Regions from separate parts of the Homo sapiens genome. Here region 1 is linked to region 2. The links come from fine-mapping of genetic effects on gene expression. A gene starts in region 2. The other region holds a variant in brackets. All regions are shown on one strand. Distances are from middle to middle.

What was found. PIP is the estimated chance that this variant, and not a neighbour inherited with it, causes the effect.
Region 1: its variant is fine-mapped to the expression of TIAM2 in whole blood (INTERVAL, PIP above 0.99).

Annotation. Positions count from the first base shown.
Region 1 is chr6:155,221,702-155,226,093 of GRCh38, reverse strand. The region is part of intron 15 of TIAM2 (TIAM Rac1 associated GEF 2); the gene reads right to left. Among named protein-coding and RNA genes, the nearest start is that of CLDN20, 40 kb to the left of the region's middle. RefSeq lists an enhancer at 1,141-2,340. The variant G/AG (reference allele first, on the strand shown) is at 2,567.
Region 2 is chr6:154,992,853-154,997,244 of GRCh38, reverse strand. It overlaps TIAM2 (TIAM Rac1 associated GEF 2), which reads right to left and starts at 1,930. Exons shown (of 27, transcript NM_012454.4): 1 at 1,753-1,930. RefSeq lists enhancers at 823-1,428, 1,429-2,036 and silencers at 1,673-1,752, 1,843-1,982.

The DNA of each region.
Region 1 (4,392 bases), 230 kb before region 2:
CTTTCTCTTCTAATATTGGCTTAAAACAATGCTTGGAATCTGGTTTCAAAAAAATTGTAGCTTCTGGGAGGAAAGTTATAAGTATATAAAACATCAATTACATGTTAATATCCTGGCAACCTTAATTAAGCAGGGGTACTGCCAAGGGCTACTTGCCTTAAAGTGAGCACAGATACCCTGTGTGCCCCTTTAATTATGGTTTTTGTTCAGTGTTTTTTGCTGGATTTGAGTAATGCAACAGTCACATCTGGCACCCTCATCAACAGGTTCTCAAAATAATGATAATCTTATATGGAACAATACCTATCTTTATTTATATAAGTATTTATCTGAGACTTTACCACTCTATAATCTACACTGACTTCTAACAGAAATGGAATAAGATTTAAACTAAGACAACTATCATTTTCAATAAATAACTTGACAGTTTTGATCAAACTTCTTAAAAATAGAAATCAATAAATACATGGGAACCAAAGCCAGGTATCCCTGGTGGTGAGAAGAGCTGGGGATCTAGAGAAGGCAGCAGAACCAGGACACTCAGGCAAGAAAAAGATGGAAGAGACAGAGTGAGGGTGACAGAATGTGAACAGAGACTTTCTTTAAAGCCCCACACTTAGAAGTTACCTGTAAGCCTCACGTTGTATTACTGCTTGATGGTCCACCTTTCCCCATCTTGGTAACTCATCTGTATAAGCCCCAAATTCAAGACCTCGGTGCTCAAATGAGAGGAAGGCAGAGCACCAACCTGTCCTGATGGGTGTGTCACCCGGGCCCTCAGACTGCCCTTTATCTATGCCTGAATGAACCAAGAAGGGAATAAACTCTTAAAAATCCCAGCTGAGTGCATTGGCTCATGCCTGTAATCCCAGCACTTTGGGAGGCCGAGGTGGGTGGATCATCTGAAGTCAGGAGTTCGAGACAAGCCTGGACAACATGTCAAAACCCCATCTCTACCAAAAATACAAAAATTAGCTGTGTGCAGTTGTGCATGCCTGTAATCCCAGCTACATGCGAGGCTGAGGTGGGAGAACTGCTTGAACCTGGAAGGCAAAGGTTGCAGTCAGCCAAGATCGCACCATTTCACTCCAGCTTGGGTGACAGAGCGAGACCCATCTCAAACAAACAAACAAACAAATAAATAGAAAATCCCAAAACCAGCTGAGAGTGGCATGCAAGGTAGGAAGATGGCAGGACTCCTCCAGGCATGCAGCATTTGTGGTTTCTGAGCAGTTGGTGATGAAATCCCCGCTGTGCAGATGCCAGGCCAGAACCTTCTAAGCAACTGCACATCTCAGAGCCTCCTCCTCTGCCAGCTGTTTTCTGAAAACACCAGAGGACTCAGGTGGCAGCAAAGAATGAGAGAGCGCAAAGGCAGGTGAATAGCAGAGGCGGCAGCATGCGCTGGAGGCTGAACAAACACAGTCGGGGTGTGGAAGGGGCAAGAACCAACGAAAGGATGAAAGAGGGAAAGAGAATTGGGGGTGCCTTTAAAACAAACCTCCATTCTCCTCCTTCCTTCCATACTAATGACACATCCATGTTTTTCTTGCCCTTTTCTTCATGTTATTATCAAGACAGCAGGAGACGGATTTACAAAACGAATGATCCCATCTTAACCTTCAGCAGTTAGAAGCTAGTGTTTGAGATGGTGAAAATACCATCATGTGTACCTGGATGAAGCACTTCCAGGCAGAGTTTTTCCATGACCCCTCCTCCCTCAACTCCAGACACATCTACTCATGACACACACATCTACTCTTAGCTGAGTCTATAGAGGAAATTGCAAAATGACTCAGAACAATTTCTCACAACTTACTTTTGCAAAAGCAAAAGCAGCCACCACTGTGGAGCCGGAACTTTATCACAAGGTGAGAATCTGCTATGAGTCATGAAAGGCACAGAAAATGCCTTGAAACTCAAACACATCTTCTTTCACTCAGTACAAGGTTTTCATTGGACTACAATCTCTACGCAAGAATATTGACAGAAGGCAGCCAGGTGACGATTTCAGAACTTTGAACAATGGCAAGCATCTGAGCAGGCCTCGGTGAAGGGGATTTAATGAGTGAATGAATAATGCGACACTACACCCACCCCCCTGGGTAAATATTAAAGATCGGATGAGATTCCAGGCACCCACACAGTGGCAAGCCAAAATTAGATAGTAATTGTGCCTATTACTTCTTTAAAAGAAAAAGGGCGAACGACAACAAGGGCTTAGCTAATTTGCTGACATGGAAAGGGGAAGGGTGAAATTCACTGGCAACGCCCTTGCCGGGGAACACAGGAGCCACAGCCACCTGAGCGTCCCTTACGCTGAGCATAAAAAACACCCCTCCTAGTCCATCAGACAGCTATTTATTTTACTAAAGAGATCCATAAAAGTTTGGTTTGGGATCAAAATGTTAAAATTCTTACTCCAAAAAAAAACCCATTTTGTTCACTAATGATAGAAAATAAAACTTTCAAAATGCCAAAACATCCCAGCACGTAATGCTGCGATTGGTGTTTAACAACCTGGGTTTGCATCCATTGAAGTGCAGAGTAAAAAAAAAAAAAAAAA[G/AG]AAAAAAAAATCTGGGGATGTCTAACCACCATCATCAATATAATCTATTCTGGTCTCAACCTAATAATTTATTTGCCATCTAGGGGTTGTTATTTATTTAACGTTCCTCAACATCTCTTAGCACATTAAAAAAATAAAGCATTAATAGCTAATCTCACCCAAGCAATTAGACTAAGATAAAAACAAAGTTCAAAATATCACTTGACTATATAAACACAGTGCTGTTCATATTGCAGGTACTTGATAACTGATTCTGCAATATCAATAATATTAAGACACAGGCTAGGCTATTCAGATGTTTACTCAAAGTAAGGATCACAAACTGACGGTTCATAAATTCCTAACAGGGAAAGCTGTGAATAAACATCGTAAGACTGGGGAGCTCCCTGGAATTGTCTGCAATTTCTAACGTATGTGCATAAGCAATCTTCTGGGGACCCATAGCTTTCCTCAGATTCTCAAATGGTCTGCTTGAAATAAGTTCCTAAATAACGTAAGTGCATAAAAGAGCAGAGAGCATCTGGAAATACGGTATCTAACCATCCTGACCTTCGCATACCATTACCTGAGAAGCCTCCAAAAATCTTACAGGTTTTAGCTTCAATGAAATGCATGAAGGACAATAAACGACCGAAGCAAATTCTAATAGGGTTCTGCTAAGATTCTTCTTCTAAGCAGCTCTCCATATTCATGGGGATAAAAAGGGATATCTAGCAGAAAGCTGCTTTGGATCAGGCATTCAGGCAGAAAGACAGACAGGGAGAGACATCAGGGCAGGACAGCTGGTCAGACGGACCCTTGAGTTTCACAGATAGGGAAGTTTGACAACTTACCCAAGGATGAAGAAACGGCTCCTCAGTGTAAGACTTAGGGCAAAAAACCCATGGTTTTTTTTGTGTTTTTTTTTTTTGTTTGTTTTTTGTTTTTGAAACAGAGTCTTGCTCTGTCATCCAGGTTGGAGTACAGTGGTGCAGTCTTGGCTCACTGCAACCTCTGCCTCCTGGGCTTAAGCAGTTCTCATGCCTCAGCCTCCCGAGTAGCTGGGATTACAGGAACGAGCCACAATGCCTATCTAATTTTTGTATTTTTAGTAGAGATAGGGTCACACCATGTTGGCCAGGCTGGTCTTGAGCTCCTGGCCTCAAGTGATCCACCAGCCTCAACCTCCCAAAGTGCTGGGACTACAGGCGTGAGCCACGCCCACCCAACCCATGTGTTCTTACTCCGAGTGTACCCCATGTCGAGGTGGCTTCCCCAAAGAATAGGCAAGAACAGGCCGGGTGTGGTGGCTCACGCCTGTAATCCCAACACTTTGGGAGGCTGAAGAGTGTGGATCACCTGAGGTCAGGAGTTTGAGACCAGCCTGGCTAACATAGTGAAACCCCGTCTCTAGTAAAAATACAAAAATTAGCTGGGCATGGTGGCGTGCACCTGTGGTCCCAGGTACTGAGGAGGCTGAGGCATAAGAATTGCTTGAACCCGGGAGGCAGAGGCTACAGTGAACCAAGATCGCGCCACTGCACTCCAGCCTGGGCAACAAAGTGAGACTCCCTCTCAAAAAAACAAAAATAAATAAATAAATAAGAAGAAGAATAGGCAAGAACCTGCAAATGGTATTTACACTGAGGCTAGTTTGGCCTGAGAAATCAAACTTCCTGCTTTCTTCTCCCACAGAAAGCAAAATTATATCAAGGTCTCCATAGCTCCATCTCTAATTCAGAAGCCCAGAAAGGAAATAAAGATCTGGAAATAGAGGGCTGAGGGGCATGGAGAGGGAAGATGGAAGAAAGAGGACAGACATGGGACACTTGCCGTTCAACCCCATC
Region 2 (4,392 bases):
AAGGTATTTGACTGACACATTAAGAATGCGTGGGTAATTGACAGATGGGCAAGAGGAGTAAGAACAGTGTAAGCAGAATTTCATTCATTCCAAACAATGGTCTGGAAATAACAACTTCTGAGTAGCTTGGTGTGTCTAGAGCAGGCAGTGTGCAAGCGGGGGAGAGCCAGGAGGCCTGGGGAAAGTCAGTAGATGGAACTGGAAAGGCAGGCAGGTGCCACATTATGAAGCATCTTAGTATGGTATGTGAAGGTGTTGAAAGCTGATTCTGAGGTCATTAGGGGCGTGTTTTGCCACAGTAAATAATAAACTCTTCTTCAGTTATACCTTGCCATGTTCTTTTACATTTACCCAACACAAAAACCTCTGACACCCTAAAGCAACAAGTTTTATTTTCCTATAAAGTGAGCAGGTAAAATCCGGTGGAACAAAAGTTTGCTTACAAAACTGCACCAATCATGATACTATATTTTTAAAACATAACAATCTTAAGCACATCAGGAAATACTTCTAAGAGTGTATACACACAAGTTCTACTGGTTAAGCCCAAATTATAAAACCATGGACACTTTTTTATCCAGAGCCTAGGACTGAAACATTTATAGCATATGATCCGCACCTGTACGAAACTTGGTAAGATTTTAGAGACACTCTGGCTTAAATCTATTGGAAAGAGAACTGGAGATAGCCGGTGTTGTCTGTTAAAATAAGGTGGTCAGCATCATTTGGGGAGCAAAAGGTAGAATGTGTGAATAACCATGAGAAGAGAATCCCAGGCCCTTCATCGCATAGTAAATAAAGGTCTCACCATTACCCAAGGAGGCTGAGGAGTGTCACCAAGTGGCCTCTTGCCTGAATTCTGCAGAGAAAAGCAGGAAAACCTCCCCCTGAATGAAATTATCTTTGGAATCAAGCAGCCTTCTCCCTCTTTAAATAAAGTTAACCTATTTGTCTATTTTAAAAAAACGGCATGCAAGCTCATCAATATTAAATTTCGCCGCTCCTTAAAGATAGAAATACCTCGTGCAATGTTACTCCCAGACCTTTCCAGCGGCTGTCAGCAACGAATGGCTGGAAGAATGGACTCTTTTCTTTCTGAACTGTTTTTGGTAAATAGGATCCATTAGGGGCACAACGTGTCGGCTTTCACAGAAACTTGGCACCTCAGCCCCCCCAGGAGCCGCGCCCGTCCGGGATGGCTCCCGCGCTCGGAAAGGCCGGAGGGGCTGAGCAGGGACCGCACGGTCTACACTCGCTGAGCCGACCGCCTGGGATCCTGCTTCGCCGCAGCGCCTTTCTGAGGCTCCGAGGTCGCCGGGCGGGCGTGGGCGCAGCGGGCGCTCCCCTCCGGGCACCCACGGCTCGGCTTTGGGCGAGAACCTCGGTATCAGGAGGCCGGGGCGCCGCCTCCTCCCATCCGGGATGGGACCGGGGCTGAAAGTGGGTCCTGGCGTGTCGCGCAGCGCGAGGGGACCAGGGGACCTAGTTTCAGAGCCTTCTGGAAAGTGCTTCGTCCCCCGTGCCAGGCTGTGCCCGGACGCTGCCGCCCTCCGGGGAGAGGGTGCCAGGCCGCGCCCCGCAGCCGCGACCTTCCGCGGGACTCCCAGGAAAGCGGGGGCAGAGAGGGGCGGCCAACAAAGGGGAAGGGAGGGGACCGCCGGCCGCGCGCCGCCCCGCCCGCAGGGGACCTGGAGCCGCCGCCAACCAGCGCGGGTCGTCGCCCTCCTGCGCCCTCACCCGGGCGCCCCTTACCTCGGGTCGCGCGCCGGGCTCGGTGGGGCCGGTCGCGCGCCGCCCTCCGCTACCCTCGGCGCGTGGCCCTCGCGGGAACGCCGGGAGGAGTTGGAGAAGTTCTGGGGGTCACTTTGTTCTCCACTTGGACGCGCGCTGTGCGCCTGCGGCGGCCGCGGCCACAGTTACGGTTACCGCTGCCCCAGCCCCGCGCGCAGCGCCTGCCAGGCCCGAGCCGCGACCGCACCTCCCGCCCCGCCCCGCCCCGGACACGCCCCAGCCCCGCCCAGCGTCAGGCCCAGGACCCCCGCGCCAGCTCCCGGCTGGTCCCGGACCATGTCCCTCGCGCTTTCTTTGGAACAACACAAATAAAACAATTCAAGAAACATCGAGCACGCGCTCACTGTGAGCTGGGGGCTCTGCCCGCTACCGGGGATGCGATGCGCCAGTGCGACCCCGTCCCTTCCCCAAGGAATTTAAAGACGGCTCTTCCCGGGTCCCACCGAGGAAAGGCACGCAAAACTGAGGTCAGCGGCCGCAGAGACTTTCCATCTCCTTCCCCTTCTGAGAGGAGATGGCTTCGCAGCGGAGATGGCAATCGAGTCGGCACTCCAAGACCCAGTCGAATTGGGACTTTCCAGGTGGAGAAGCTGCGATTTTTATTATTATTTTTTCAGACTGAGTTTCGCTCTTGTTGCCCAGGCTGGAGTGCAATGGCGTGATCTCGGCTCACCGCAACCTCCGCCTCCTGGGTTGAAGCGATTCTCCTGCCTCAGCCTCCCGAGTAGCTGGGACTACAGGCACGCGCCACCACGCCCGGCTAATTTTGTATTTTTAGTAGAGATGGGGGTTTCATCATGTTAGTCAGGCTGGTCTCGAACTCCCGACCTCAGGTGATCCACCCGCCTCGGCCTCCCAAAGTGCTGGGCTTACAGGCGTGAGCCACCGCACTGGGCCAAAGCTGCGATTTTTATTAGAAAAGCCTGAGTGGCCCAGTGGGCCCAGATGCTGGGAAGGGCGAGGGAGCTAAGGAGACCCAGGAATGAAAGCTGCCTGGAATCACTCTCCTCGCCTTGAAAAAGGCTGCACCCTGGAGAGGAGAGGGAAGGGAAGGTAGATGCAGGCCATGTGTTAGGGTGGGTCCTACGAGAAGCAGCGCCCACTCAGGACTAGATGCGGAGGGTTTTCTTGGGGGAAATGGCCGTGGAACTAAATGAGGAGGGAGCCGTGAGAGCTGGAGAGGGCCGGACCTTCTGCAAATCAGAGCCCAAGTGAAGGAGGGAGGGAAGCACCCATCCCGGCCTCCCTGCAGTCTAAGAAAAGCTCAGCAAGATCATCCGTGAGCCCTTCAGCCAAAATTACGCATCATGGGGATCCCGATTCTCCCCGGAACCTGCCTGCCTTCGTGTCCATGCCGCCACCAGTCCTTGGCTGGGAGCGGCCAGGTGGGAAGGGTGGCGTTGGGCACAATCCCAGTGCTGGAGTTCAGAGCACAGCAGCCAGGGCCCTGGTCAGTTAGGTGCAGTGCGTGAATACGACCCAGTCTCCGTAACGGGAGATCCGTGGAGAACTGTGAGTCAAAAAGACAAATGAAATCAGCTTTCCCACAACACACCCAGTATCAAAAGGAAGCCTCCAGGCTTTGCGGGGATCGGACAGACCTGCTCTCCACCCTCAACCACCACAGGCTCTGTACACACCGAACTAGTAGTGACTGGCCCCTCCCACTCTGTAGGCCCTCCCCTGGTCTTGTCTGCATCTTTGCGCACTTGGCTCTGCCTAGGAAAATATCTTCCCACTCCACTCACTCTTCCATGCTCAATTCAAGCATCACCTCCAAAGACCTTTTCTTCCTTGACATTTATTTACTGTTTTGTGGGTGGGGTGGGGGGGGGCGGTGCTTGCTTTGTTTTGAGATGGAGTCTGTCTCTGTCGCCCAGGCTGGAGTGCAGCGGCACGATCTCAGCTCGCTCAACCTCCACCTCCCGGGTTCAAGTGATCCTGCCTCAGCCTCCCAAGTAGCTGGGACTACAGGCATGCACCGCCACACCCAGATAATTTCTGTACTGTTAGTAGACACGGAGTTTCACCATGTTGGCCAGGCTGGTCTCGAACCCCTGACCTCTAGTGATCTGCCCACAGCCTCCCAAAGTGTTGGGATTAGGGTGTGAGCCATGGCGCCCGGCCAACACTTATTTACTTCTTACTTCTGACTCACACCTACCACACTGAGACGGGGGGTGGGGGGGTGCTGGTATGTGTTTATTTTTCTTGCTTCTTTTATTGCATTTTTCGCACTATTTTAAAATATTTTTCTGATTATAAAAGTAACATGTTTGTTGTACAAACTTGAAAAAATATATAGAACCCAGATGGCTCTAATTCCTCTCCTCTTGTGAGACACCATCCCTTGACAGCCAAGTAACCAGAGTCTGAGCTCCCATACCACCCACGTGTGTACATATGGGTCCAACCAAGAGAGAGGCTACACAATGATTTCAACAGTGAAAGTTTAATACAAAGAATTATTAACTATAACGGGACTTGGAGTAGTGGGGGATTGACTAGGTTAGTAAGAAAGACAAAAGAAAATGGGAAGAGCAGGCCAGGCGCAGTGGCTCATGCCTGTAATCCCAGCATTTTGGGAGGCCGAGGCGGGCA